2 linked regions of the Homo sapiens genome follow. The protein of the gene in region 1 purifies or fractionates together with the protein of each later gene. This does not show direct contact. Each region holds a gene or a part of one and is shown on either strand. Other genes may lie near its edges.

Region 1 (15,448 bases):
GGCATCATTTAACAACCCACATGGCAAGTGGCTTCAAGGTAATTATTTAGCTCAGGAGAGGTGAGACTGCTGTTACATTTTAAATGACTCTTTCTGATGGATAATTTAAAGAAGCTCCCATTCCTCAGATAAAAATTTTTTTTCCTTTCCTGGAGGGAGGCACAGAAAGTATGACAGCTGAGATAAAATGACTGTGGAGTAAAGGGAAAAGGGTTTAATAATCTGGAGGTGAGGGAGGGCAGGGGTAGAAGGTTGTTTTAATAAACAGGAAGTGAGGGGGATAATTCCTACTGCACAGTAGGCTCTCTACAAATAAATAAATGAAAAAAATGAATAAAACGAACAAAAAGAAGTAGTTGAGATGATGAAGAATCTTTTATGACATGGCCCCAAAAGTAGAGAGAAAAAATTAATATTTTATTTGCTACCCTGTAAACATATCTTAAACACATCTGTTCTATGGAAAAATGCAATTGAAATTCTCAACAACCATTTTTACAAAGTTTTAGAAAATGACTCATCCATAAAACTTGCCAATTTATATGAAATTCATTAGAAGGAAAAATCAAATCACTAAATCAAAAACCTAAAGGGAAAAATGACTAAATAAAGAAAAAAAAGTACAGAAAATGGTTAATTATAAAACTAAATGCAGAAAAATTAAACTACAGTTATTTTAAAAGGTACAAGACCATCCAGAAGACTTTCCATCTTCTGTATAATGCTTTTAAAAATGCCACCATCACCATATTTTAACAAAATTCCCAGGTAAGTAAATGTGGTCTGTTTACACTGCATATCTTATACAAAGGGAACATGACAAGTTCAAGGGGTTAATCGTGTATTCTGGGGAGTCAATCAACAAACATGTACTAAGCATATACCAGGCAATGTGTTGTGTATGTAATAAATGAATTATCAAATTAACTGTTATTACTAATGATACCAAATTACACCCTCTGTATGCCAGACCATAAAAAAGGTTAAGAGTCACAGCAATAGAGATGTAACTGCCAAAATCTCCCGTAAATGATTATGGCTTTGTTAACTTATTTTTTGTGAAAAATCTTTTTTGTTGCATTCATTATAACAAAATGTGATCCCTACCCAGCCAAGTGGTAAAATTTAAGTTAGCACGTCGTGTAATGAAAATGAGTATTAATTTATGAAAAACTCTCATAGCAGATTGATGTTTGTTGTTTAGAATTACAGAGAAATTTCATTACATCAAACAGTGTCTAAAATAAGCATGGATTGTTTTGTTTTGTTTTGTTTTTTGAGATGGAGTCTCACTCTGTCACCGAGGCAGGAGTACAGTGGCGTGATCTCAGCTCACTGCAACCTCTGCCTCCCCGGTTCAAATGATTCTCCTGCCTCAGTCTCCCAAGTAGTTGGGATTACAGGTGCCTGCCACCACACCTGGCTAATTTTTGTATTTTTAGTAGAGACAGGGTTTCACCATGTTGGCCAGGCTGGTCTTGACCTCCTGAACTCAGGTGATCTGCCCACCTCAGCCTCCCAAAGTGATGGGATTACAGGCGTGAGCCACGGCGCCCAGCCTCTTTTTTTTTTTTTAAGAAAAATTTTTATAGTCTACTTCCTTTAGTGGCATATACCTTAAACCAAATTTAAGTTCAAAGTGAAATTCATAATGCATATTGAAAATTTCACTTATCACAAATTTAGTTATTGTGCTGTAACTAAATGGCAAGCAAATCATTAAAAATATATAAAAGAATTAGGAAATAATAGAACTAAAAATGTCTAAAAAGATACTTAATTCTTATCTATCTCAGAATTAAACTTGAGCTTTTTCAGCCAGAATATATTACATAAAGCTTTCCCCCAGCTAGGTGCTATGCTTTTAACTGATAGGTGCTCTAAGAAACAATCGTTTTTATTGCAATAGAGTGTTAAATAATTCTATGTTTATATTCTACTCTACTTAAGCAAGTATCATTTTACTGACTCTAGTAAATACTTGTAAGAGAGGCCAGGCTCAGTGGATCACACCTGTAATCCTAGCATTTTGGGAGGCTGAGGCGGGAGAATCACTTGAACCCAGGAATTCAAGACTAGCCTGGGCAACATAGTGAGACCTTATTTCTACAGAAAAAAAAATTATTTAACCAATTAGCTGGGCATGGTGGCATGTACCTGTAGTCCCAGCTACTCAGGAGGCTGAGGTGGAAGGATAACCTGAGCCCAGGAGGTTGAGGCTCCATCCAGTGAGCCAAGATGGTGCCACCGCACTCTAGCGTGGGTAACAGCAAGACCCTCTCTCAAAAATAATAACAGCAATTAAGACAGAAAGGCAAAAACAATAAATAATGACTAACAGTAACTGAGACAGCACAATGCCACAAAGCAAATAAGCAACAGAACTAGGATTCCAACACAAGCTGTACCACTTTGAAGTGCATACTCTTCATCACCTATGTGTGCTATTCTGCCTCTTAAAGATATCTCCTGCCATTTTTATATTACAATAAAAATGTTGACAACAATAACAGCAAGATTCCCAAAACTTCCAATTTGAATGAATCAGAGATATAACAAAACACCTATTTTTTTTCTTCTACATAATATCCAAAGAAGCTATAGACACTATGGTTACGATTTAAAGGAAAAATAAAAATGAAGAGGAAAAAAAACAAACTACAAACCTTATCTTACATGTCCCATTCCAAACAAGGTTGTGAGTAGCTCAATGTTGCTTCTGTTTTTATTTACTGAATTTCAAAAACACTGCATTCCCATCAGTGACTGATCCTCAACCTTCTTTAGTTTCCAAAAACTTCAGCTTTGATAAAACATATACTCCTCCACTTTAATACTCCATAAAAAAACTAAATGTTCTGAGATAATGCAAATAAAGGAATCTAAACTGTTTATATAAAGTTTATATAAGTCCCAAATTTGACTTATTGTTATAACTTAGTTTGGGAAGTTTCTAATTGAGAAAATTTATAATTCAAATTCATTTTAAATTTGCCATATGAACTTTAAGTACTGAAGTGTCATTCCCATCTACTGAGTGGGTATGAAAAATGTGAACTCATTTCAACATCATTGTAGTCATTATTATTCTATTAATACTCTCAAGCTAATTCTTCTTCCATGAATTTTTCAGGGAGATACGAGTCAGTCACTGACTAAACAGTTATATTACTGGATCATGACATACCTAAACTTAACATTTCATTAAAAGTACTTAAAATTTTTGCTAGCTAAATAGAATCATAAAATTACAAGGCTAAAAGGAACTTAAAAGGTCATTTCTTTACTTCCCTTGCCTTCAAGGATCATACTCATACCACCAAGATTTTTATCTATTTTATAAAGCCCCAGACAACAGAATCCCAAAATCTGCCTTAGAAACCTATGTTAATACTCACTGGAAGTAATTTTACACACACTTAAATTTCTGAAACCAAAAAGGACAGAGTAAAATAGAAAGAACATGGGTTCTGAAGGCAAGACCTAGGTTTAATCCCGCTTATACCAAAACTACTGGCAAAATGACACTGGGAAAATTACAGTACCACATGAACTCAAAGCCTTATTTCTCCTCCATAAAATAGGGTTATAACTAACTGTTGAAGTCTGTTTAAGGATTAAGTTAACAGACACAGTCCCAACTATAGTGCATGATACCAATACCATAGCTGGTGCTCAATAATTGCCATTTCCTTCCCTTTTAAAATCATTTCCCAGCACTTTGGGTTCTGGTAATGGCAAAGCAGCTTTGTCAGATAAACTTTCCTATAAAATCTGGACAAAAACACCATTTTTCAATGCTCTGGAGAGAGACCAAATGCAGGCAGAAGCTGGGAAGAGTTTACCCATTGAGAAAAAGAAAGTGTATCTGACAACAGGCACTTGTTTATACCTTTTTGTCTAAGAGCAATTCTCAAACTTTCTGGACTCAGACACCCTTACACTCTTAAAAATTACTGGCGGGGTGCAGTAGCTCACGCCTGTAATCCCAGCACTTTGGGAGACTGAGGCAGGCAGATCACAAGGTCAAGAGATTGAGACCATTCTGGCCAACATGGTGAAACCTCATCTCTACTAAAAATACAAAAAAAAATTAGCTGGGCATGGTGGCGCACACCTGTAGTCCCAGCTACTGAGGAGGCTGAGGCAGGAGAATCACTCGAACCTGGGAGGCAAAGGTTGCAGTGAGCCGAGATCGCGCAACTGCACTCCAGCCTGGTGACAGAGTGAGACTCCGTCTCAAAAAAAAAAAAAAAAAAAAAATTAGTGAAGATCCCGTATTAGAAATTTTAAGAGATCCTTTCATAGTTCGAAAGCGTGACGTTTAAGTTTTCACGCATACATATGAGATATGCCTCCCTCAAACATTGTCACAACATTGGTACATTACCATCTGACATGAAAACACAAAAAAATTGAAAAGGAAAAAATTGTAATTTATTAATTCATTACAAATAATGATGAACTTTTTATATTTTAACATATAAGTTCTAATGACATTTTCTGGAACAAAAATATTAATGAGAAGAGTAACCCTGTTCTACCTTTTTGCAAATCTGTTTAATGTATAGCTTTTAAAAAGTTAACTATATTCTCATATCTGCTTCTGCAATGAATCACTGCAATCCATTGTTCTAGTTGAAGTATATGAAGAAAATTTGGCCTCAAGTACACACGTACCTAACTGGAAAAGGCAGGGACCCTGATCACCCCTTGCAAAGTTCTCAGAGACAGACAACGGTCCTCAGATCACACACTGAGAATTGCTGATCTAAGGGGGCTCTAATCTGTGTACAACTCGGGAAGCAGAAAGATATAGCTTTACTGAATTTAGGTGACACCGGACAAAGTTTGAGGGTGACAGGACAGTTCTAACATTGAGGTGTAAATTCTGGAAGGGAAGAAGCCAAAAGGGGGTAAGTCCCCCAAATTTATATATAAACTGTCCCAAACCTTGGCTATCTGCTAAACCATGCATGTGCAGAGGAGATTCTAGGGTACGATGACAAAGAAAAAGCTGGAAAGAAAAGATTTCAGCTGCTGCCATCACTGAAAAGAGAATGCAGTTTTAATCTAGCCAAGCAAACCACTCTCTACAACCAAAAAAAAAAAAAATACTCTTCAGAGGAACACAACATAAATGTTATAAATTTTATGAATGAAAATTTATGCTTACATTATAAATAAAATGTAGACTACATTTCGTCTCTACATTTCATAATGTAAGCATGAAACTTTAAAATTACTGGATACACATATCAAAAAAAAAAAAAAACAAAACACCTCAGGAAAAAAACAAAACGAAACAGGAAAATGTGATCTATACTCAAAAAAAAAAACATAATCAACAGAAACCAACCCCAAAAAGACCTAGTCATGCAACTGGCATTAGACTAGCTATAATAAATACACTCAAGGACTAAAGCTATAATAAATACACTCAAGTTTCAAACAAACTTAGAGATAAGTAATCTCAGAGAATTGGAAGTTTTTCATAAGAATCAAATGAAAATTCTAAACCTAAAAAGTACAATAACTGAATTGAAAAATACAGCAGGTAGGCTTAACAGCAAGTTGGAAACAAAAGAAGAAAGAAAAAATGAACTCGAAATCAAGAAAAATTATTCAACCTAAGGAACAGAGAGAAAAAAGACTGACAGCAGAACCTCAGAGACCCACCTGTGGGTCAGGATCAACAAGTCAAATGTTAAGTATAGCTTAAGTCACAGAAAAAGAGTAGAGAATGGGGCAAAAAAATTTTGAAGATATAATGACCTAACACACCCCAAATGTGGTGAAAAACAAAAATTTATCCAATATCAATATAAACCCTATGCAGCAAAAATACAAAGAAAACGTATCTGTGCACATCATAGTCAGATGGCTGAAATAAAATTTTTTTAAATAAAAAAATCTCAAAAGCAGCCAGAGAAAAACAACAAAGTCAAACAAAAATATGAATATATCTACCTTCTCCTTAGAAACTCCAGAGAACAGAAGACAATGGAACTACATCTTTATAGAAGTGGAAAAAAATAAGCATCAAGCCAGCACTCTTCAGCAAAACTATCCTTCAAAAATACGGCAAAATCTTTCAGGAAAACAAAAACAAAATTTGTAGCCAGCCAAAAGTATGGCAGTTCCCCAGAAAGTTAAAAATAGCACCATCAAATAATTCAGCAATTCCACTTCTGGGTATAAACCTAAAAGAACTGAAAGCAGGAACCTGACAGATATTTGTACATTCACGTTCATAGCAGCATTATTTATAATAGCTAAAAGGTAGAAGCGACCCAAGTGTCCATCAACAGATGAACAGATAAACAAAATGTGATATATACATACAATATTAATATTCAGCATTAAAAACGAAGAAAATTCTGACATGTGCTATAACCCTGGATGAACCTTGAAGACATTATGCTATGTGAAATAAGCCAGACACACACACAAAAAAACAAATACTGTATGATTCCATTTATATCAGGTACCTAGGATGGTCAAATTCATGGACAGAAAGTAGAAGAGTGGTTACCAGGGGACTGAGGGTGGGGAAAGAGTTCTTGTTTAATGGGTAGTTTCAGTTTGAGCTGATGAAAAAAGTTCTGGATGTGGATGGTAGTAATGATTGCACAATAATGTGAAAGTACTAAATGCCACTAAATTTTACACTTAAAAATCGTTAAAATGGTAAATCTTACATTTTACAACAAAAAAATTTTTAATCAACATAATTTACCATATTCAGAAAATAAAAAAGAAAAACTATATGATTATCTCAATAGATGCTAAATAAGATTTTACTAACTTGACTACTCATTTACAATAAAAACAAAAAACGTTCAGCAAACTAAAAAAATAATTTACTCAGTCTTATGGACACCTATTAAAAAACCTACAGTTAACTTAAGTTTTGAAGCATTGAACATTTCCCCCCACTTCACATTTAAAGAGGGCAAGGATGTCTACTTGCAGCAGTTCTACTCAACATGTCACTGAAGGTCTGGGATAGTACAATAACAGTCATAAAGGTATAAAAATTGGAAAGAAAGTAAAACTGTCCCTATTTGTGTGCAACATAATTATTAATGTAGAAAAATGCAGAACAATTAAATGATCACGATTAATAAGTGCGTTTAGCCAGGCGTTATGACACAAAGTTAACATACAAAATTTTACCATGTATCTATGTACTAGCAGTGAACAACTGGAAAACAAAACTAAAAAACAATTCCATTTATTTTTGCATCATACAACATAAAATCCTTAGTAATAAATTTAACAAAGGATATACAAGACCTCTACCAAAACTACAAAATGTTGCTGAGGAAAATTAAAGATGACCTAAATAAATGGAGAGATGTGCCATGTTCATGACTAGAACTTTCAAAACTGTTAAAATGTCTCCAAAGTGATCTACAAATTCAACCCAACCCCAATTACAGTCTCAGCATAATCATACTCCTTTTTATAGTAATTAGCAAGCCTATTCTAAAATTCATAATTGAAACACAAAAGATCTAAAATCTTGGGAAAACAACAAAAATGGAGAATTTACATTAACATCAGGATTTACTAAAAATCCATTCAATGGTTCTCAGCTGGGGCCAATTTTGCCCCTCAGCGGGCATTTGGCAATATCTGGATACAATTTTGGTTGTCACAACTGGAAACATGTTACTGGCATCTGGCAGGTAGAAACCAAAGATACTATTAAATATTTGACAATGCATAAGACAGCCTCACAACAATGTGGCCCAAAATGTCAATAGTGCCAAGGTTAGGAAACCTGAAACTACAGTAATCAAGACAATATACGACGGGCGCAGTGCCTCATGCCCGTAATCCCAGCACTTTGGGAAGCCGAGGCGGGCGGATCAGCTGAGGTCAAGAGTTCAAGACCAGCCTGGCCAACATGGTGGCAGGAGGCTGCAGTGAGCCAAGATCAAGCACTCCAGCCTGGGTGACAGAGTGAGACTCTGTCTCAAAAAAAAAAGAAAAAGACAATATGGTATTGACATAAGGATAGTCAAATAGACTAATGAAACAGAATACAGACTCCAGAAGTAGACCACTTAGGTCAACTACTCAATAAAGGTGACAAAGCAACTCAATGGAAAAAGTGTTTTCCAAAGTAGGTTCTAGAACAACAGGATATCCATACACAAAAAAAAGGAAGAAGAAACTTGATCCCTACTTCCCTCCATATAGTAGCTCAAAATAAATCATAGACCTTAACAAAGGTTAAATGATAAATTGGTAAACCCTCTAGAAAAATGCATTAAAAACATCTTCACAACCTAGCAAAACTACTGAGAAAAGACTTAAAAGCAGAATATATATATACCAAAAAAAAACTAAAAGAACTCCTACAACTCAATAAAAACAAAATCCAATTTTTAAAATGGATAAAGAACTTGAAAAGACATTTCACAAAGGAAGATAAACAAATGGCTAATAAATGCATGAAAATTCAAAGTGGTCAATATTAATATCATCACAGAAATACAGACTAAAACCAAAATGAGAAATATAAATTAAAAGCACAAACTACATACCCATTAAGATGACTAAAATATACATGACTGCAAACAACTGATTGTTGGTGAGAATGTATAGCAACACAACCTCCCATGTATTGATGGTGGGCAGGTAAAACAGTACAAAAAGCTCTAGCTGTTTCTTATAAAGTTGCACCTATCCTATTACCCAGTGATTCCAATCCTAGGTATTTACTCAAGAGAAATAAAAACATATGCCCACAAAAGGCCTCATACAATAATGTTCTGCTTTATTCCTAATAGTACGTATGTGGACAAGTGAAAGAAACCATGTATATTCATAAAACAGATCACTTACTACACAGCAATAAAGAGAAATGAAATTCTGGTATGTACAACAACCTAGATGAATCTCAAAAACATTATCGTGAGTAAAGGATGTCAAGGACATTTATGGTCACCTAAATGTAAAGTTCTAAAGCAGGTGACAGTAATTTATGTTTATTTAAAAAAAAAAAAAAAAAAAGGCTGGGCCCAGTGGTTCACACTTGTAATCCCAGCACTTTGGGAGGCCCAGGCAAGCAGATTGCTTTAGGCCAGGAATTGGAGACCAGCCTGGCCAACGTGGTGAAAATACAAAATACTAGAAACACAAAAATAGCCAGGCAAGGTGGCATATGCCTGTCGTCTCAGCTTCTTGGGAGGCTAAGGCATATGACTTGCTTGAACCCGGGAGGCAGAGGTTGCAATGAGCCAAGATCACACCAATGCACTCCAGCCTGGGCAACAGAGCAAGACTCTGTCTCAAATAATAATAATAATAACAATAATAATAATAGCAGATGACTGGAGGGCATGGGAATTAACTAGAAAGGGTCACTAAGGATCTTCCTGGGGTAACAGAGATGACCTCTATCTTGACAGGAGTGTAAGTTATACCCATGTGAACATTTGTCAAAATCAAGCAGTTGGCCAGGCGCGGTGGCTCACACCTGTAATCCCAGCACTTTGGGAGGCCGAGGCGGGCAGATCACAAGGTCAGGAGATCGAGACCATCCTGGCTAACACAGTGAAACCCCGTCTCTACTAAAAAATACAAAAAATTAGCCAGGTGTGGTGGCGGGTGCCTGTAGTCGCAGCCACTTGGGAGGCTGAGGCAGGAGAATCTCTTGAACCCGGGAGGTGGAGGTTGCGGTGAGCTGAGATCATGTCACTGCACTTCAGCCTGGGCAACAGAGCGAGACTCGGTCTCAAAAAAAAAAAAAAAAAAAAATCAAGCAGTTAAGTTTTGTCCATTACAATGTATATAAATCTTACCCAAAAAAAAACTATTAAAAAAATCTAGTGGAGGTAGGGGAGTAAACAGAGGTACCACTCAAACAAGAAATGGCAAAGTATTAATTGTTGACATTAAGTGATGGGTACATGGGAGTTCATTATACTATTCTGTTTACTTCATATATGTTTGAAATTTTCCATAATTAAAGGTTTTTAATAAATAATTTCCCTTAATTCCCCCTCAGTGGAGGAGAAAATTAATAATCACTGTCCTTCATATAAGTTAAAATCTTCAAAGGAAGTCTCTAAACTTTGTTTTCTACACCAAACAATCCCTGTCCTCTACACTTTCTTCATATTCATCATAGTTACAGCTCACCTTGAAATCTGCCCATATTTTCTGTATCTTATTTATGTACTACTATCTAGTAGGGAGAAACAGACTGGAGCTATGACTTCATTAGCCTCTACTACATGCCTGGCAGTATGCTACCTACTTTAAATAACTACCCACTTAAATCCCAAAACTGAATTTAGCATCTAAAACTTTAACCCTTAGAGTGACTTTAGTTAACACTAATTGACTGTACATTTCAAAATAGCTAAAAGAGAGTAACTTGCATGTTCTTAGCATAAAGATAAATATTTAAGGGTTCCCAAGTACCCTGATTTGATTATATGCATGTATCAAATTATCACATGTACCCCAAAATATGTACATCTATCATATATCAATTTAAAAAATAATAATAAAATAAAATTTTAATGTTTCTTTACTGATCACCCTCACTAGAATTTATGTTCAATGGCAACACTGATCTTATCTTGTTCACAATTTCTTCACATCAGGCACATAGCAGGTACTCAGTAAATACATGTAAATCAAAGAATGAAAGAATATCAGAGCTCATAAGTACCCGGTTTAGCTCTCTTCTTAGTAGTGTAAATCATTTCCTATTCTAGCTATATCCAGCTTATTTTGCCTCTAATCTTATTGGCATCTATATCAATTGTTATGTATTTGTTTCAAGTGGAGTAGAATGACCCGTGTTTGAAAGCGTCACATTTTCTTTATTCACACATGTAGTGTAGTAAATCAATGTATATATTGCCAAGAGTCTTTGAATGATGTATTTTTTATATGTGGTCTTACTTTTTCTGTTCATATTGATACAAATAAGGAGATTTTTTTTCCTTAAGAGACAGGGTCTCACCATGTTGCCTGGCTTCCTAATGCATTTTGACAGTCTCTTTTTTGATAGTATCACCATCACAAAGCTGAAAACCCCTAGCAAATATTGAGAACTCAAAGTTCCTAACACAGGGTAAATTATAATTAAATTACTATTGAATTAATAATTACTGAGTTAATAAGTTATCACTGAGTTAGTAATATTGAGTTGTAATAAAACCAACCATAAATTTTATTTCAAAAGAATTTATCTAACAAACTAAGCATCTACATAAACTTAAAATCAAATTGTTAGATCCCTTCACAGTGAATCCAGGTTTGTTCTCAGAGTACATTCTTCAGTAAACATTTGGGGTGTGGTTTATGAATAAAACTACCAATACTTTAGATTAGAATTTGATTTCTACCTCAATTTCAAAGAGTAATTTTTTCATTCTTAAATAAAATCCTTAAAACATCCATAAGTTAAAAAGCTTAAAAGGGAAGGGGGATGTTATTAGTGATATTATAAAATACAAAAACTGAGTGAAATAGTTGTTAACTACAGTAAGTCAATGGTAAGTACTAGAATTTTCCTCATTAGTAAGCAAAATATGCTACCAAAGAAGATGGTCACTGCAATGTTTCTCTGACCAAATAAAAAACTTTTAAAAACATGTTTTAACATTCCAAGGGAGAAGGCAAAAGAGAAGCAAACTTCACTCACAAAGAATCACTCACAAAGAATGACATTTTATATATATATATATACACACACACATATATATAACTTTATTAAACATTTCACAAATGTCTTACATATATCATTTGCCACAGATTTAAATCCAAATTCTTCCAAATGCTATTTGATGTTTATAGATTATACGTAACTTTAAAAAACATTTAATTCAAATGTGCCAAATGCAGCAAAGGGCTGGAAAATAGAGGTTTCAAAGTAAATAGTCATTTAGAGACACCAGCAAATAGATCTGACCTTTTCGAGTGGCTTTCCCAAAGAGTTTCCAATCAGTTTCCAGTCATTCAAGACTTCTTCAACTTTGGAAATAAACCTAGGAAGTAGGGAGAAAGCTTCTAAATACAACAGCACACCTTTTTTCCTATTATTATGTAATTTCTTTAAAAAGGTATTTTTTATATTTTAACAATTTGACCAGAGAGGACTCAGTACATTTAGTATTGCTAGCTTAATTTATGGATATGGGGTAAGAGAAATAATCTTCTTTCATTCAAGAATTCTTAGGTTTTGATTCATTTATATCTATTGCTTACCCAACAAAAGCATTCTGCCTTCTATAAAATGTAAATTAAGAATTGATGAATCTCTAATAAAACGAATAAAACAAATTTGGGGCACAAATAAAAACTGACAGACTAAAATGATACTATTAAAGATAATTATGGGCTGGGTGCAGTGGCTCATGCCTGTAATTCCAGCCCTTTGAATTCCTAACCCTGAGGTTGGGAGTTCAAGACCAGCCCAGCACAAATACAAAAAAAATTAGCCCGGTGTGGTGGCACACATCTGTAATCCCAGCTACGCAGGAGGCTGAGGCACAAAAATCACATAGAAGCGGACGTTGCAGTGAGCGGACATCGCGCCACTGCACGCCAGCCTGGGCGACAGAGTGAGATTCCATCTCAAAAATAAATAAATAAATAAAATTATGAAACCAATCATCTCTCTCCTACCCACAATAACTGACCTATTTAAATAAACTTTTCCTTTAAATATATTAGGAATTCCGATTTACCCCCCCAGCCCCCAACAAAAAAAGAAAATATTATTTGGTAACTTGGTTCATGAAACTAAAACAAGTTTTAATGGACAGCTGACAAGAAATTGCAAGTAAATATGTCAACTTTAAGTATAAGTGACAGGTCTTAAAACTAGTCACCAATCTTTAAATCCAATGGTCAAGAAGGCCTATTAAAAAGAGAACTGAATTTTGAGTAGCAACATGCTCAACATCAGTAAATGAAAACTGTCAAGTCTCAGTCAAAGACATTTTCAGAAGAATTATTCTTACTCTAAGTTGACTTCTTATATAAGCTAAGTATGATGCAATCTAACAGCAACATTGCTCTCTAAACACCTGGAAGTACTGCTAGAGTACTAGAGTTAATTCTAGTCAAACTGTATGGAAAGGCAACAGATTTTTTCCTTCAGTGACATTATGAACTAATATGAACTAATAATTATGTTTTAAGATAGTAATAATAAATCTATGATTCATCTGAGGCTTCTTACTAATTCCTCTTTAAAATTAAATGCAGTATCAATTCATACACTAATTCATGGGGGAGGTCAGTCAAATGACAATTACTAGGTTTGAAAATCAGTGCTCTAGAAACAAGTTTACATGTTTACCAAAGAGGAAAAATTTAATATATCCACAGGCAAGCAAAAATTTGCATGAAATGTATACTATATTTACGAAGCTAAAAAAACTGGAAGTTACCTTAATGCCCAACTGCAGGAAATACTTGTAAATTAATCCACTCAGAGGACTAATATGCACCCAATAAAAATCATGTCAATCAAAAGAAAATATACAAAGGCCAGGCACAGCGGCTCACGCGTGTAATCCCAGCACTTTGGGAGCTGAGGCGGGTGGATCACGAGGTCAGGAGTTCAAGACCAGTTTGTCCAAGATGGTGAAACCCCGTCTCTACTGAAAATACAACAAAAATTAGCCAGGCGCGGTGGCAGGCACCTGTAATCCCAGCTACTCAGGAGGCTGATGCAGGAGAATTGGTTGAACCCAGGTGGCAGAGGTTGCAGTGAGCCAAGACTGCACCACTGCACCCCAGCCTGGGCAACAGAGTGAGACTCTGTCTCAAAATAAAAAAGAAAAGAAAAAGAAAAAGAAATATTAATATTTGATCCAAAAAAGTTTTTAACACACGTTAGAAGGAAATATGTCGGCCGGGCGTGGTGGCTCATGCCTGTAATCCCAGCACTTTGGGAGGCCGAGGCGGGCGGATCATGAGGTCAGGAGATCGAGACCATCCTGGCTAACACAGTGAAACCCCGCCACTACTAAAAATACAAAAAATTAGCCGGGCGTGGTGGCGGGCACCTGTAGTCCCAGCTACTTGGGAGGCTGAGGCAGGAGAATGGCGTAAACCTGGGAGGCAGAGCTTGCAGTGAGCCGAGATCGCGCCACTGCACTCCAGCCTGGGCGACAGAGCGAGACTCCGTCTCAAAAAAAGAAAAAAAAAGGAAATATGTCAAAAAATTAACAGCAGTTATTTCCTGGTGTTAAGTTTACAGGTGATTTTTATTTTTTATTCTACTATAAGGTATTACTATTATAGTGAAAACTATTTAAAATATAGTTTTTACAGTAAAAGAAGAAATGTCTTTTTTTTTTTTTTTTTGAGACAGGGTCTCAACTCTGTCACCCAGGCTGGAATGCAGTGGTGTAATCACAGCTCACTGCAGTTCTGTCCTCCAGGACTCAAGCAATCCTCCCATCTCAGCCTCCTGACTAGCTGGGACTACAGGTGCACATCACCATGCCCAGCTAGCTTTTGTATTTTTAGTAGAGACAAGGTTTCGCCATGCTGCCCCAGCTCCTCTTGAACTCCTGAGCTCAAGTGATCTGCCTGCCTCAGCCTCTCTAAGTGCTGGGATTACAGGCATGAGCCACCATGCCCGGCCAGGAATGTCTTAAAATACTTATTGTATGAATAATGAATTCTATCAGTACTAGCTAAGAGACTTGGACTTTATCCTACAAGTATTGAGATTTGACTAGAAAAACTAAGTAATTTTTTCCTTAAAAGCTCTCAGGAAATGAAGGGTCATTTCCTGATTCCTTATTCTATATTAGGTCCCTCTGTTATAGGCTCTTATAAGACCAGGTTTCTTTCCCTTTCTAGCTCTTACATAAACTCATAATTACAGACTTGTATTACTTGATTTGTGTCTGTAATGCACTAGACTGCACATTTAGTAAAAGCAGAAACCGTACCTGTTTTACTAACCACCACATCCCTAAATCCGTAATGTGCACTGTGCTTGACATATGGGGATTCAATAAATATTGTCAATGAACAAATGATAAAAAGAGTTATGGGCTTCTATACAGTTCTCTCAATAAATTATCTATATAGTTCATAACATATTGTACTCACAAGATCTTTCATTTAAAATTAAACTCAAGGTTTGAGACTTCAAAGTCTTAACATTTTCTCTCATGAATTGTAAAATGCACACTACAGTGTAAAAGCCAAAAACCAAATTTTCTACTTTGCAATAGTTCTTATAACGGTGTTAATAATTATTTCCATATGCAAAGCTAAAGGACTTAATATTCCACTTCAGGATATTTTTAACTAGGGGAAAGTGATCATTTTTCCATTCAAAACTGATGTTTCCCTACCCCACCCTCCAAGATTTGAATTACATTTTTCTAACTACCTTCAAGACATCAAATTATTTCAAAATCAACAGGTTCAAATCTTCTCACTT
Region 2 (17,314 bases), on another chromosome or scaffold:
TGCACCCTCTGGGAAGGCCATGGTTAAAAGGACCCCAGAGATGCAAGAATGACATGAATGCAGCCAGATGAGAGCAAGTGAGGTGGCCAGTACAGGTCAAGAATCAGAGCTCTAGCAGTTGCCATGAACGGTTGTTTATTTCCCTCTGCCCAATCCACTTCGATACACTTTGCTGCAAGTCCTTTTCCTGTTAGTAAAACAAGGTAGACTCCAATTTCCACATTCATGACTGTGTGCCCTTAGCCTCTTCATTTCTGCTGCTCTGCCATCAGCCCTTTGTGTGATAAACCTTTGCTCCCTTTGACCTTACTTCACTCTGGGTTTTCATCGTGTTTTCAAATGGCCTTTACATACATAAACAACTGCTCAACCTCATGCAAAGAACCACAAACTCAAAGTAAGACACCACGTGCATTTTACAGGTGAGGAAAGATCAAAAAGTTAGATGGCGCAAGGTGCTGGCAAAGCGTAAAGCAGCAGACCCTGCGAGGACTATGAATTGGTACCTCCTCTTTGGATGGCAATGTGGAAGCCATCTAACACAATTTAAAATGCAGGCACCCTTTGAGCCAACCACTGCTCCTCTACAAATTGATTCTGTGATATTCCTGCTCATTTGTAGGAGTGTTTGTTGTAGCGTTGTCTTTAGCAGTGAGACTAGAAACTGCTTAAACGTACCTCCATAGAGGGCTGGTTAAGTAAATTAAGGGCACATACAGAGGAAAATTATGCAGCCATAAAGAATGATGTGGGCTGGCATGAAATATCTCCAAGATAAACTTCAAAGTCCAAAAAGGAACATGCACAACAGAGCAGTTAGTGTGTGCTGTTGCATGTGTATTAGAAAACACATGGTTGGGTGCAGTGGCTCACGCCTGTAATCCCAGCACTCTAGAAGGCTGAGACAGGAGGATGGCTTGAGCCCAGGAGTTCGAGACCAGCCTGGGCAACACAGAGAGACCTCATATCTACAAAAAAATAAAAAAGATAGCCAGGCATGCTTGTGCATGCCTATGGTCCCAGATACTCAGGAGGCCGGGGTGGGAGGATTGCTTGAGGCTGGGAGGTGGAGGCTGCAGTGAGCTGTGATCACACCACTGCACTCCAGCCTGGATGACAGAGTGAGACCCTGTCTCAAAACAAAAGGAAAACACAAGGCTGTATATACACAGACATATATGTGCATAGAAGATCTCCAGAAAGAGTCAACACATGGAAAGTTCAGGATATCTCTGGAGAAAGAAAGGTTTGGGAATGGAGGAAACCTGATTTTGTATACTGTGTACCCCTTGGTCTTGTGTGAAGTCTTACCATTTGCCCACCTTACTTTTCCAAAAGAAGTTAAAATTGTTTTCATTAACGTTTTAACAAGGTAACACTGTAAGATGGAGAACTGTCAACCACTACTTAAAAGACAGAATCCACCCACCTTTCAAAGCTGGAAGCAATTTACACAGGTGGGTACCTTTGTAAATCACTGATGACACACACTTCCCCCAATAGGAAAACACTGACATGCAAGCTGGTCCCTGTGCTTAAGCTCTCTGGGCAAAAGTTTCCTCATCAGTAAAATGAAGACGTTGACCTAAGTGATCTCTTAGATCTGTTTTCTGGTGCAAAAGGTCTCTGATTTTAATTTAAACCAATTTCATGTTCCTACAAAGCAGTGAGAGTCGAGCAACGGGCTCTAGTCCACACTCCAAAGCCTATCTCAATGGAATTAAGCCATCCATTCAAAATAATTTTACACTGAAGCATCCTTTAAATATATTCAGAGCACAGAATTTATTGAACATAATATGGAGACAGCTAGTACAAAAGTTTATGCCTTGGCAGGGCAGGTTTCATCAGGCTGATAATGGAACATGGGAGAACATGCTGTAAATGGCTCTTTTGGTCTGGACCCTGCAGAAATACATCTCCTTCTCTCTGGGAAACATCATGTCAGCTGCCAAGCCATGAATTTATTACATATCAGAAAACCAAAATGTGCAACAGTAAAGAGTCCTTTCCTGCACCAACTTTTTAAATTACTTCCATGTCAAAACAGCAAATACAATGAAAAATACATAAAGGACAAATTATGAAAACTAAAGCATTCTAAGACATCTCTTAAGATACTCAGTTCCTAACATGTTAACATACATTGAAGACTATAAACACACACATCAGAAACTGTGGGAATCTTTTTTCAACATAGGGAGAAAGACGTAGAATAGGGAGAGAACAGCATGGGTTACTGAAACCATTTATTCAGAAAGCAGAGGAAAGGCGAAAGGAACACTGAAATAGATCATTTTTAGTTTCTTATAGGAAGTTCCAAATGGCAGCAGTTGATAAATCGTCTTTAAAAAGGAAACGACAGCAACAGAAATGAGAACCAAATATATTTTGCATTTTTCTCTCGGTGTATCATCTTGAGTCACCTTACTTAGGCTACACACGAATGAAAAATATAAAAAGCCACGCCCACTAATTTCGCAGCACCTCATATAGTAGCAAACAGACAGAGGGTACTTACGAAACGTTTGCTAAGGAGTGAATGATGAAAAGCAAAAAGTAGTTCTTGTACACATGGTCTCAATATCACAGACAATAAATTCTGACCTTTGAATTCACATAAAAGATGCAATGGAAAAACATTTTAACATGGATACTGTACTAGAGGATTAACAGCTGAATTCAGTCTATTTCTTAAAAACAAAAGAAAGACGGGAATGCAGGCAGCCAGTTCGGAGAAACAGCCAGGACTTTTTTGTATGACATGGAAAAACCGGCAAGTCAACGTGTGAAACGTGCACACTCATTTCTCATCTTCTTAAACCCTAAAAAGCCCCGCAATCTTGTTAGCACTAAGCCTGGATGAAATTGTGTTAAGATATCTGATTAGTCTCCCTTAGTTGGCATTTTCCAAAGGGAAAAAAAAAGGGAACCTGTTTTATTTCAGTCAGACATGGCTTTGGGTATCAGTGAAACGAAGCTCTGACAGCAGCTCCACCTGCAGAAGGCCAGGCGCACTCCTGCAGCTCATCAGAATGCAAGCAGGAAAGCAGGCCAGCAAGCGAGCATCTGTCCTGCACCCACATCCATTAGCCAAGTGATTACATCTCCATCAGCCCTGGGGTGTAATAAAGCAATTGTAATCGGGCATTGTTACAGGATCAATGTTTCCTGGTTTAAAAATAAACATCAGCATTTATCTAGCAGCAGAAAGCGATTCTCCCACAGTACTGTTTTATTCAACTGACATCTTTTAATCAAAGCAATCCATATCGTGGCAACATTCCAAGGTATCATAACTGCAAATATTTATGGCAAGTTAGATAATGGCTACATTTTTGTTGCTACACTTTTCTTCCTTTTCTACGGATTTAACACAGACATTTTCTAATAAACTAATTCCATTAAGAAAAAAAAATCTCAAGTAATTATATTCATGAAGACAACCTCTCATCCACCTCCACCCGTTTCTCTTTTAACTATCATCCATAACTGTTTATGTGAGTTCATGTCTTTTAAATTTTTCAAAATATCTCTGTAATGAAAATAAAAAGCCCCTATTGTTAAGTGCCGTAGATACAGCCAAAAACATGGCATGGAGGGAGGTCAGGGCCCCCTGGCACAGGGGTGGGTGAGCTTGTGCAGCTCAGCTAATGTTCTAGGCTGTGGCTAATGGGATTCAGAGGCTGGAGGAAGAGGTCTGTGAAGCTGGGGGCAGACCCATTCCCACAGCCTCCCAAGCTTGCCTGTCGGCTGACGCTCCTTATCAGGGGCTTCTATTACTTGCCCTCTTTGCTGATATCCTGGAGAACCGCAGTGCTAATTCAGGGAAAGGCCTGAGACATCAGCAGCTCAGCTGTTTTCAAACCTCAGCAGGGCCCTTCTGTAATACCAATTTTAATCAACTGCCCTCATTCACATTTAATTTACAAGTCATGTAAAGCCTCCATATAAAGCGCTCCCATCATCTCCTTGCCGAGACGGACTGGCAATATTCTTTCTAAAGCCCCCAAAGTCATTCTCCAGGAGCATCAGCAGAGATCTTCAGGCAATGAGAAAATGGAATATGTACCTTTTTTCACTGTCTGTAGTGTGTTCAGTTTCCAACAGAAAAAGAAAAAGCATCTGAACTACAGTCTTAATTCTACTTACTTTAGTGTGAAAATAACTGAATAAGGTACGGAGGCAGACACAAAAGATGTACAGACGGGCAGAGTAGCTGAGGCAGGAAGGCCTCATCCACTCACTTCCCTGAAGCAGATTTTCAGAGCTGAAATGGTATCTTAGCAATGTAGGCCTTACAGAGACTGATTTAGTTCTAAAAAGTTGCCCGATTTAACCTCCTGGAGCCTTTATTTCTTCGTATGCAAACAGAGCCATCTACCCCCCAGTCACAGTTGCAAGGATTAAGTTCAATGAGCGAATGTATTGGAAATGTTCTATACAGGTAAGGAGTGGCATTGAAACAACAGTAACTTTCTTGAAAAGGTTCCTATCAGAGCAGATCTGTCTGAGGAAAAGGGGCCAGGGAAGGCGTTCTCCAAATCCAATTAGGCCACAGAAACTCAATTCGCGTAGGGCCAGCATGATCTCAGAGCTGCTCTTGGTGTTCCAGAAGAGTGGTCGTTGGCCTTATGGGATTTGTATGTCATGAACTAGAGTCATCCATCTATATACTTTGCAGGGGCCTTTCTAAATACAATTCCATTCCAGCTCATCTTTGAGAACACTCCTTCTCAACAACAGCAAACATGGCCCCAAGTGTTAATTAAGAGAGGTCTCCTCAGAGTGGTAACTTTTCATAGTTCAGTTTGGTTCTTTCTCCTTCTTCAGGCCAGACAGCCGGGGGCAGGGAAAGCCACGAGAGGCCCTTCAATGAAATGCCATCTCCAGCAGGGGGAAGCAGTGGCCTCTACACCGAGAAGGTCTCAGGAGTTAAATGTTATTCAGGTGTTCAAAGTGACACTGGGAAGCCCAAGACCCCTATCTCTTCATACATGTATTTCTCAAACTACAATGAGAAATGGGCCATTCCTTTAGAGAAGGAGCTGAAAATGACATATAACATTGTATTTTGGCATGGATTCTGAGTTTGCAAACACAAAAATTTGTGTATGCAAAAAAATATAGGCACGATTTGAAAACTGTCAAGCTACTGACATACGGCACATATGCCACACATGCACACATGCACACATGCACACACACACAGAGTCTGTTTTCAAATTCATCTGAAAGGCTCTGTAGCTCTGAGCTCTCACTACATTCAGTTCTATCTGACTCAACATAGCCTGCAAACTGGGCAATGATATCTTTCGATAGCAATTCTGTTCCTGGGATTTGTTTGAAAGCGTTTAGGTTTTCACGGATCACTGGAGGTTCTTCATTTTTCCCCCTTCTGTGTTATGGAGGTATAAGTCGTCTCTCTAGCCATAAACTGGCCACTGGTAAAAATCAATTTTGATTTTATCAGTATGTATTACTGCTGGTGCCAGCAGTTCAGAAGACGAGAGAAGGAAAACATGCAAACTAGGAGGAGAAAAAAGTTAAAGCCAGTTCCTCACACCTACAAATAAAAAAGCCTGCTGTCTTTAAGAGGTATTTTGTATCGTGCCAAGGAAGCTTAAGTTACCAATTTAAAACTTCAATCAATAAAAACTTTCAGGATTCTGTCACCGCTTCCATCTCTTCTGCATTTGTGAGCACTATGGCTGGCATTTCTGAAGCCAGGGCCGCCCTCTCTGAGGTGCTGTGGAGCCAGTAACCACAGGAGCAGACTGGAGGGCAGCCTGGCAGCAGCTCCCCCATGCACACTGCCCAGCGGCATCCTCCCTAGGCTCGCTCTTTCCATGCCAGTTTCGTCCCGATTATCTGACTCTTAACCCTCTTGGGGCAGGGCAGGCCGTTGTGACAGGCCCCATATTCACCTCCTCTTTGCCTTATTCTTTTTTTCATTATGTAATTCTAGGGAAAACACCCTAAATGTGCATGCATCTCCAAGTCCTCCAGGAGCCACGCGTGCTCCACATTCTTTCTTTTCCTGGCACATTTTTGGCTGCCAGGATGACTGAGAAAATAATCAACCTTCCCATCAGTCACCTGTTTCTCTTCCTGAGCAGTTTCCTTCTGCCACTCAGTCAAAAGGCCCACAAACATGTTCACCAAGTCCTAACCTCTAGAAGGGAGAGAGACTTCAGAGACTGATTTTTAGCTGCAACCAAAATGTCCACATCCTCTGAGAAGCTGAACACCTTCTCCTAGATGTACACAAAACTCTAAATCACCTTCAAAGGTCTAAAACAGAGTAGTTTCTCAGATATTCTTTTTAAGAACTGTTACAGACTCACAAGCCAAATCCCATGACCCGGCTGTTTTTGTGAATAAAGTTTTATCAAAACACACGGCCATATCCTTTAAAAATAAATAGAGCCCTGCTCTAGTGTAATGGGACTGTACTGTACCCCTAGGCACTGTTGGGGACCACCTAAGCACTCTCCTATCAAAGACATGAGGGCCTGGAAGCTACAGGACTTAACTGGCTGCAGCAACTACAATTAGTAAATTTTAGTCCCCTCACGGAAAGTCAGGTGGCAGAAGGCACATGCCTTACAGCTCGGTCTTTTCACTCCCTTTTATAAGTACTGGGGGACACATGGGAAAAATCCTGGAGACGAATTCCTATTGGGGTGGCCTCCCTGTCTGCACACTCAACACAATCCATGGGTGCCTGGGTAACAACTAAGTCTGTTCACCATTTCTGTGAGTACCTGGGATTCAAAGTCAACTTTTTTCATGAAGACAGGAAGTTACTTACTCAGACCAACCATAGACTTCCACTTCTCCAGTTTCAAGGCCCCTGACCCAGCTTGACAGAGCCAGGCTTAGGAGCAACGTGGCTCAACGTATGTGACTTCTAAGGACTGCCTTCCTTCTGATGAACTTGTCCTCTCAAACCTGTGCACAGTGGGACTGTGCCCAGAACGCCCGTTACTAGTCTCAATGGCATGGTTCCCTGACCTAGAAGGGAGGCTGCTTTTTACTGAAGGCCAAAGCAATGGAAGGCCAAGGGTGACCAGGTGCTCAGCTTTTTCAGCAGTTTCATTTTTCATACTGTCAGCTGAAGACAACCAAAAAAAAAATACACACACACACACACACACACACACACACACACACAGAGTTAAATCATGAAACACGTATTTCTCAGTGATAGGGCTCATTTTAAAGTTAACCTTCCAATGGCAAAATAATAAAAATGATAAAATAATAATTCCCCCCATAGAGCAAATGTGACAAAATGACAAAAGAATTCTTAATTTTGGGGCTTTATTATAATTTTTCTTTTCAAGATGCTACATAGTCAAACAGAACTGGGTTGGTCTTTTATGGCATAAAATTAATTCACAGTCAAACTCTCAACTAGTACTAGAAGGATTCGCTGAAGAGTTTCTCTCTTCCCTTGCTCCCCACCCACAACTGCTGGTGCCCTCGCTTCTAACCCTCTGCAGCCCGATCCATTTGTCCTGACTCCAGGCTAGGTCCCCAAGGGGAGGTCAGGCTCAGACTTGGACCTGGGCGCTGGAAGTGTGAGTAATGGTTGAGAGGTGGTATAAGAACAATCTAGAAGACTGACTACTCTTCATTAAAAAAGGTAACCTAGAGTTGACTGTCACTACTGAGAATTTCCCTCCCTATGACAGTTGTTATTTACTGACCCAGAAAAAACACTTCCTGGCAGCTCTTCTCCAGCATCCCAATAAACCCCACCTCCACATGACCAGACTCTCCAGAGACAGAGGAGCCCACAGCCCTCCAGCAGCAATACCAGTTCACCCAACAGAGTTCAGCAGCACGCAGCATTAACTGTACTCTTGTGACAATAAGAAAACATGAGATGAAATACATTAAATAAGTTAAATATGCATTAAACATCTCTGAATAACAGTTTGACTTCACTACATGAACCAATACAAATTTAGCTTGGTCCCTTTAAGTGAACAAAGCACTGCCATTTATTTCCAAAGCGCTGGGTCAATCAGTCAACACACGCCTCTCACTTATGACGAGTACGTCTGATGCTGCCACAGTGCAATTCCTTTGGGCTTCTGACTCTGTTCATCAGTCCCAAGGAGCTGATGGCTTGGACAGAACTGAAGACACGGAAAGCAGCCTGGGCCGGGAGTGGGCCACGTGGGGACTACTGTGTGGAGCTGACCGCACTCCCCAGCATGCTGGGCTCCAGCTCCCCAAGGGCCAGCACCAACAGGCGAGGAAGGGTGTCATTTTAAGAGAGGTAATCCAGCATCATGTACCAAGGCCTACCAATGTTTAAAATGACATTTACAATATGCCATTGTGGCATTACTCATGGTTTCCCTTGTCATTAATAAAGATCATTCTTTTCCCCCTCAATCAGTTACTATACATTTTTAACTTTCTAAAAGATCGTTACATTATATTTGTGTGTGTGTATCTGTGTATGTGTGTGCAGGGAGGGGTAATTTAAAGGCAAGACCTGTGAGATGTCATCATACATTAATTTCTTTTTACACATGGTTATGATAAATTTAAATCCCATGATATGGTGGATCCACCAATCCAATTTACCATCCTGTGCATGCTACCTCTACAAGGCAATCTTCCCAATAATTACACCAACGATAAAGAACAAAACCACCAGAGCCAAGAGCCGGGTGCTAAGGCCTTCTTCCTTCCCAGTTGGGGCTAATGCTGAAATGGGGCTGTTGCTCTGCACTGTCTTCCTCATCCGCAGTCCATCTTCTTCCTACGGGAGCAAACGCACATTTCAAAGACAAGCCAAGGCACCAGAAAGGGGAGTCAACTGTACAGCTTAACGGGATGGGCTGTTTATGCCCAGTGTTGGATGACATGATATGGTCCAACCGCATTTTGCAAACGGAGAAACTGCAGGCTACAGAGGGGAAAGGGCTAGCCTGAAGCCACTGAGAAAACAGTCCCCTCTTTTCTTTCATCCATTCCACTTGCTGCTGCTAGTTACAACAGACATCTAAACAGGGTGCTCCTTGGTTTCCCGTGATTTACAGAAAAAAGCACTTAAAAGGGTCAACTGGGCCCTTTGCACCCTCGGCCCCACCCACCTCTATGGCCATGTCTTCCGGATGCTTCTCTTCAACCCCAACCTCTCTGTCCTTCCTGCCTCTAATGAATAGCCTTCCTTGATCAAATCATCGATTTTTAAAATCACAGGCATTTCCCAAGACATAAATATATAAATAAAAGAATCTACAAAGTCAACTGGGCACGGTGGCTCATGCTTGTAATCCCTGTACTTTGGGAGGCTGAGGCGGGTGGATCACCTGAGCTCAGGAGTTCAAGACTACCCCTTGGTCAACATGGTAAAACCTCGTCTCTACTAAAATTACAAAAATTAGCCTGGGGTGACAGAGTGAGACTCCATATTAAAAAAAAAAAAAAAAAAAAACCTAAAAGTGGGACATCTGGAAGCTTTCAAATGCAGAGCTCTGTAGATAGCTGGTACTTAATGAGTTACATCCAGACTGCTGGATCAAATGATATTTGGAATATTAAAATGTGACTGGCCTTCATACACTCATCTCAAATATTTTCTACTTAATGCATAGATTTCTCATTGAAGAAGCAACATTCTTTTTCATACATATAAAGATATTTGACCATATTCCCCACCCTCCCCTTGTCCCCAAACTACATGGAAATGTAAGAAATGAAAAATTTTTTCTTCCTTCACCTCCACTGCCACAACTGCCTTGCACTTTCCTAAGAATCTGCAAGTTACTATGTAGATCTATGATGCCATTTCCATGCTCTCAAAGCCAAGCCCACATCCCTGAAGAGGGACATGCATCAAGCCATTCTATTCTGGCACAGACTCATCTTTGCTGATAGATCTCTTGCTAATTACCTCATCTCCTCATCCTTAAACCCCACACACCAGCTGTACTTTCTTTTCTTCGTTTCCTTCCATTCGCTCCCATCCGCCCGAGTACCTAGTAGGTCCTGGGGACCACAGGCAGATGAGTCCCATGGAGCTGACTCTCCCTGCAATTTGTTGCTATCTCTGTGGGACATTGATCACACTGGCTTGTAATCACTTCTGTCTATGTCTCTCCCTGCTATCCCAACAACAGAGAGCTCCTCAAGGGCAGGGGCTGTTCGTGTTTGAATCCACAGTGCCGGGCACATATTAGACCCTCAGTAAATTTGTTGGCCAGATGACAGAATAAACCAACACAAAACAAGAAGGCAGTGTTTGGCAGGATAAAGAATCTTCTAATGTTGAGATTGGTCTGATCATATTTTAAGGATATTCTGCTCATGGGGCATGGCCCGTATCACTGCACAGTGATAAACAACTGGTGGTGTCCGACTGGCTTAAAAAAAAACCCGGCAAACTAAACCATTTATTTTATTAGGTTATATAGAAGCTATTTCTACCTATTTACCACTTTAAATAGCACAGAACTCTGTTTCAGAAGAGAAATACACTCGAGAAGCTTCAGGCATAGCTTAGATTTTTAGCCAAAAAGTAGTGTCAGCTTCACAATTTACTACACACTAAAGAAATTACTGACTGAGGCAAATCAAAATCACTGCAAAGGAAGAAGATGATGCCATTTCCCAAATGCTGTCAGTTCTCCTATATCTACCTCACTGTCAGAGTAAAAGAGAAGAAAACTCATACTTTTAAAGCTGGAAGGGGCCTTAGAGGTGTTTAGCAAACAGAGGCCTAAGAGATGCTGTGACCAGCACAGATTCAGAGCTGTTTCATATTGGATGGGAGCAACTTCCACACCACCACAAGCCAAAAGAAGCACCCCCTGCCTCCCCACTTCATCACTCAGTACAATACAACCTTCCATTGCCAATGCCAACTGCCTCATCCAGAAGCTAGAAGCTCAGATTTTCCTTCCATAATCTCCACCTCCTACCCACTGTGAGGCACCCCACCTCCAAGCTCATCACCACATCAATAGTTTGATGAGCCACAACTGCCCAGACCTATTTAGAGTCTTCTAAAATCAGAACTATACTTGCATTAAAACAGAGTATAGGTCAGTATTCACTCTCTGAAAAAAGATTCTCACCCAAGTGGTTTAAAAATGCATATTCAAAATAAAAACTATTTTGGTCTCAACATTTATTTTCAATTTACAATAATGGAGAGTTTGAGTTGTTTGGGGTTTTGTTTATTTTGTTTTTGAGACGAAGTCTAGCTCTGTCACCCAGGCTGGAGGGCAGTGGCACGATCTCAGCTCACTGCAACCTCCGCCTCCTGGGTTCAAGCGATTCTCCTGCCTCAGCCTCCCGAGTGGCTGGAATTACAGGCACCTGCCACCACACCCAACTAATTTTTTGTATTTTTTATTAGAGACGGGGTTTCACTTTGTTGGCCAGGCTGGTCTTGAACGCTTGACCTTGTGATCGGCCCGCCTTGGCCTCCCAAAGTGCTGGGATTACAGGCGTGAGCCACCGCACCCGGCCAAGTTTTTTGTTTTTGTTTTTTTTTTTAAGGGGACAAGAGCTTCAACAGTTGAGAAATTTCTGATCAAGGGACAGTGGTTCTTAATTTAGGCAGATCCAAGGACCCTTTTGAGACTCTCATGAAAGCCATGGAAATTTCTCCCTGGGGAGAAAAAAATAGCCAAATACCAAAAGCAAAAAGAAATCTATATATTCACTGGCTCATCAACTTCCCCACCCAAGAAGCTAGTGAAAACGCCCTTGTTTTCTGTAGATTACCAGAAAATAAACTATTACCTTGAACTGCTTGTTCTCCTCCCGTAGCCTCTGAACTTCACCTTGCAGCCTCTTACATTCTTCCATAACCTTCTTAACTTCGGTGTCATCCAAAGAAGAACTCAGAGACTTAGACACTATTGGTGTTTCTGTCTTTGATGCAGTTGTGGATATAATTTTATTTATTTCTACATCATGCTGTTCAAAAACAAATGAAAGCCTAAGTGTCACCGACCATGTAATAATGGACTTTTTTATGCAAAGTAAAGTAGTTCTCAGCAAACACCAAACGTGGTAGCATTTCATCCACACTGTAAAATGTCACATTTATTTTAAAAATGGATTACTTTATCTGATATCTTAATAATCTAAAGCAACAGGGCCCTAGAAATTATGGATAAGGGCAAATAATGAAGTTCGGCTGAGACTAATACTTCAAAGAAAGAGAAAAAGGGCTGTGTATATTGCACTATCAAATTCCTGCCACGGAAAAATCAGCATACTGTAATTGTGCAAGCTCAGGAATTATTAGCCACAAATTACTGTCACCACAAAGATGTGAACATCCCTAGGATTGCCTTAGTGGGGTTAGGAGGCTTGGGAGAGCATTAGACAGAGGGCGAATTACTTTACCAACTTAGCATTTGGAAGCTGGGATGAAGGTGAAACAAACTCAGTGTCTGCAATGTTTCAATCTTGGGAAGTTACATACTCCCCTTATTTCCCCTGCCAAGATTCAGCTATGATCCCCTCTTGAGATTTACAGGGGATGAGAGCCAGTCAGTGGAGGGAGGGCATGGAAGCACGCAGCTTGTCAGGGAAAGAGTAACTGACGATCATTGGCCTGGAATCTAGCTCTACCCATCATTTTCCAGATGAGAAGAGTAGGCCCTGTGAAGCAAGGCCCCAGGCTACCAAGTCAACCTATCACAGAGCTGAGGCCAGAATACTGCTTTCACAGCTTCCAAACTGACCTTCCTGTGACAGGATGTACACTGGGAAGAGGGAAAAAATGACCACTATCCACTTAAAGAAACAGGGTAATGATAGTGGTAAATGATTCAGCAGAAATAAAATCTCAGGTAGTTTTGACACAAATCAACAGCACTCGCGCAGACCAACATAGATACTGTTAACACAACATTTCAGGGTACTTCTGTTTCCCAACTCCAGCTATTAATGGCTAGGATAGTTTCACATGCTGCATGCTTTCACAGTTTTGGTGTTTTTATAAAAATTAAAATGTTTTCGACTAGGTTGAAGGGAAGTCCAAATTAGCATTTCAGATACAGTCTCCTTTCTTCAACTGGTCACAAGTGAGGATCATGAAAGGTAAAGCGCTCACAGTGGACAGCCTAGAGGATGGGGCTCCTTCCTTCTCCCCACAGGCAACACCGGAATGGGATCACTCTCAATGGGGGTTGATATTGCCCTCCAGGACACATGTGGCAATATCTGGAGACATTTTTAGTTGTCACAACTGGGAAGTACTACCAGTATCAAGAGGGCAGAAGCCAGGGATGCTGCTATTAATAAAACACCCTACAGTACACAGGGCAACCTCCACCACCACCAAGGATTTGCCCCAAATATCAACAGTGTTGAGGCTGAGAAATCCTCATCTAAAAGCAGCCTTTGATTGAAGAGGTAGATAGGGTAAAAGGGGTAGGGAGGCTGACAGGGCACTTTGTAAAACAAGAGAACTTGAAAGCTTCCCACACGTCCATCAACCACCATGATAAAGGGCAAATTGTTCCCTCTTTCACTCTCACCCACTGTTTAACAGCAACCTATACCTTTGCCAGGCCACAGAAGCTCTTCAGGATTTATGACATCTCAATGGCCATCGGGCTGCACTTTTCAAGGGGAAACACTGTCAATCAGTTGTCTTTCCGTGAGTTTTTCAAAGGCTGATTTCATAAAGGCCCACTTATTTGCTGACTTCAGCTTATTTTTTTTCTTCAGACATCAGATAAAGGAAAATAATTTGCCAACTTAAATCTTGGTTTTGCAGGAAATGGTATGCAAATAAGTATCAGCTTACAACATTCAATTATTGTTAACTATAAATATACTTACTGGTTTATCATTCTCTGCTGGCAATTCAAACACACATCTAAGTTTTGAATCCATAAGGTCTTCCGGTTTTGCCTCCTTCCACTAAAACAATTTAAATTTAATAATCAAGATATTATAAACCTGCTGGAAGAATAACTTTCTTCCTATAACTGACAATTTCAGAAAAATACTCTTAATGAGAAAGCCCTGATGTATATCAAATAAAGAACTGAAGTCTGCTGAGATTTCAATATTTGTAACATGACAAGATTAAATACACTCACTTTCTCAAAATATTACACTTCATAAACCCTGAAGTCTTGCTGCCTGACTCCTCAAAGTCAACCAATGCTCCCCATGTTGCTACTCTGTGGGACAGGCCCACCACTGAACAAAAAGGAATCCTCTAAACAATGTCTGGATGACCAGGTAACCTTGGCTCTCCTTATGAAAATAAAACTTGTTTTCAGCTGGGCATGGTGGCTTATGCCTGTAATCCCAGCACTTTGGGAGGCTGAGGTGGAGGGACTGGTTGAGCCCAGCAGTTTGAGACCAGTCTGCACAACGTAAGGAGACGTCATCTCTACAAAAAAATTAAAAAATTAGCTAAGCATGGAGGCACATGCCTGTGGTCCCAGCTACTCAGGAGGCTGAGGAGGGAGGATCACTTGGGCCCAGGAGGTGGAGGCTGCAGTGAGCCATGATCATGCCACTGTACTCCAGGCTGGGGGACACTGAGAGACTCTGTCTCAAAAATAATAAATTAAATTAAAATGAGAAAATGAAACTTATTTTAAAGGCATATCTAGAAAGTATAAGCGCATACTATCTGGGACTAGTTTCAGAACCACTCTGCCAACTACCAACGGAACACATTCATTACCAAATCCCTCCTCTGTCACTGTGGCAGTGTGTGGGCTGTGTCTACCCCAAGACCCATCTCCATCCCTCCAGGCTGTAGTGAGAGCACCTTCCTAGCTAAATCCCATGTCCTAAGAGGATACGCTCCTGATTACTTCTCCTTTTGGCAGCAGAAGATGGGAATTCCAGGGTATTCTAGGATTACAGACCAGGATAGCAGCAAGGTTATGATATAGAAAAAGAAGGCACCCCCACCCTCCATGCCCTCAACCCTTCCCAAAACCATGCAAGAGGCAGCTACTGTAACACAGGTACCAAGAACCAAAAGTGGGAAGCAATCTATACATCTGACCCTAGGGGACTGCCACAAAAATTATGGCAGATCCACTAAACGGAACAGCATGCTGCCACTCAAATGATGCTGAAGAGCACTCAGTTAGATGGAGAAAATGTCCAGAATGTTAAGTGAAAAAATCGCAAAGAATACTGAAGTCTGCTCCTCTGCACACACACACCTGTACACGTGTGCCTACCACATAAGTCAAAAAAAATATCAAGCAAGGATCATCACTGAATGCTAAAAGCACCAGGTGAAAGACTGCTGGCGAGCAGGATATTCACATGGTCTCAAAGTATCAGATGACTCAGAGTATCACAGATTACCTATTAACCACAGGGGCAAATGTGCTTTGTGCTATGACAGTGGAGAGAGCTGGCAGTCACCATCTTAACCAAGTGATCAAACAGCATCACCAACAGCGGAACAACCTGGTATGAAATACCAACTATGGAATATTCTTGCCAAAACACATTTAACTTGAATTTAATCATGAGGAAATAATCAAATAAATCCAGAATACAGGACATTCTGTAAGTCAACTGGCCTGGACTCTTAAAAAAAAAAAGAAGTTCAAAGTTTGGGCAGGGTGCAGTGGCTCACACCTGTAATCCCAGCACTTCGAGAGGCAGAGGCAGGAGGATCACTTGAGCCCAGAAGTTCAAGACCAGCCTGGGCAACATAGTGAGACCCCAACTCTATAAAAAAATAAAAAAATAGCCGGCATGGTGGCATGCCTGTAGTTTTAGTTACTCGAACAGCTGAGGTGGAGGTCAAGCCATGACTGCACCACTGCACTTCAGCCTTGGTGACAAAGCAAGACTTTGTCTCAAAAAAAAAAAAAAAAAAAAAAAAAGTTCAAAGTTTGAAAAACAAAAAGGTTTGGGTGTCCTCTACTAAAGGTCACTTTTGGAACAACTAGGAAATAATGAATATGAATTTATCACATAATAATACTGAATTGAAGTTACTTTTTTCAGCTATGATTAATAGTATCATGACTATATAAGAGACTGTCCTTGCTCTGAAGCATTTAGGGGTGAAGTGTCATAAATTTGCATCTCAAGCAAATAAGAAAGTTTGTGACAGAAAGGAAGCAAATGTCACAACATGTTAACAAATGTAAATCTAGGTAAAAGTTATATGAGTGGTCACCATGCTATTTTTTCAACTTTCTGTATATCACAATAAAAAGAAAAACATTTTAAAATAAAGAAAAAGCAGGCTGGGGCAGTGGCTCATGCCTGTAATCCTACCACTTTGGGAGGCTGAGGTGGGCAGATCGCTTGAGTCCAGGAGTTTGAGACCAGCTTGGGCAACATGGAGAAAACCTGTCTCTACAAAAAAATTAGCCAGGCATGGTGGTGCGCTCCTGTGGTCCCAGCTACTTGGGAGGCTGAGGTGGGAGGATCACTTGAGCCCAGGAGGTGGAGGCTGCAGCGAGCTGAGATCACTCCACTGCATTCCAGCCTAGGTGACACAGTAAAATCATGTCTCCAAAAAAAAAAAAAAAAAAAAAAAGGAAGAAAAACACAAAGCTCTCATTTCTCATTAATGATGGTTAGGCCTAGTAGAAAAGAACTATGGGTCACTTTAAATTTTTTTCATTTGTGTATTTCCAAAATTTCCCACAATGTACATTTTATATAAAAAAAATTTAAACTTATATCATCATACAAGGAACTAAAATGACCCTTTACTAGATATGCAGTGACTGGCCTATTACACACTCTGATAAGCAAGTGTCAGACACTGGACCCACCAGGCACTTACACAGGCACACTTCATACTCACCACTGTGTGAGCTGCATTTTTATCCCTATTTTACAAATGATCAAAACCTCAACAGAGTTAATAAAACCTGCTCCCAGCCACAACGTCAGTAAAAGGAAGAACTCAGCTCGAAAACACCCAAGCCCATGCTCTTTTCACTATGCCATGCAGCAGAAGCCAAACAGAACACACCCTTGGATCTTCCATTATTTTCTATCTGCCATGTTTCTTTGATCACACAAATTAACATGAAGTAACACATCATGTTGCAGAAAATCAGAGAAAGTTTTCATAAGAATTGTTCTTATGAAAAGAAGACAGCCTATTATCACTGATCTCTCTAAAAGTCAAAAATATCTGGCCTCCTCCTTCATTTTCTGCCTACAAGTGAAACATCAGCGGAGATGCTTCTCCAGAACTTAAACAAAAGGCTATGTGGTGACATAGGGCATGGGGTGGTCTTGGCCTGAGTTGCCCTTGGTATGAAACTCAGACAGAGGAGAACTGCAGTATGGTGTGATGAACAGC

What was found.
Region 2: the proteins of RAB3GAP1 (region 1) and VAPB purify together in Homo sapiens (affinity purification with mass spectrometry; 6 studies listed by BioGRID and IntAct, with this or other methods). This does not show direct contact.

The regions. Positions count from the first base shown.
Region 1 is NC_000002.12:135,054,583-135,070,030, reverse strand, and holds part of RAB3GAP1 (rab3 GTPase-activating protein catalytic subunit), read right to left. Parts: intron 12,021-15,448; coding exon 11,945-12,020; intron 4,400-11,944; exon of another isoform or gene 4,297-4,399; intron 1-4,296. UniProt on the Homo sapiens protein: Catalytic subunit of the Rab3 GTPase-activating (Rab3GAP) complex composed of RAB3GAP1 and RAB3GAP2, which has GTPase-activating protein (GAP) activity towards various Rab3 subfamily members (RAB3A, RAB3B, RAB3C and RAB3D), RAB5A and RAB43, and guanine nucleotide exchange factor (GEF) activity towards RAB18.
Region 2 is NC_000020.11:58,435,548-58,452,861, reverse strand, and holds the end of VAPB (vesicle-associated membrane protein-associated protein B/C), read right to left. Parts: intron 13,918-17,314; coding exon 13,837-13,917; intron 13,717-13,836; exon of another isoform or gene 13,554-13,716; intron 11,956-13,553; coding exon 11,779-11,955; exon of another isoform or gene 11,778-11,778; intron 8,786-11,777; coding exon 8,627-8,785; 3' UTR 1,761-8,626; downstream 1-1,760. UniProt on the Homo sapiens protein: Endoplasmic reticulum (ER)-anchored protein that mediates the formation of contact sites between the ER and endosomes via interaction with FFAT motif-containing proteins such as STARD3 or WDR44.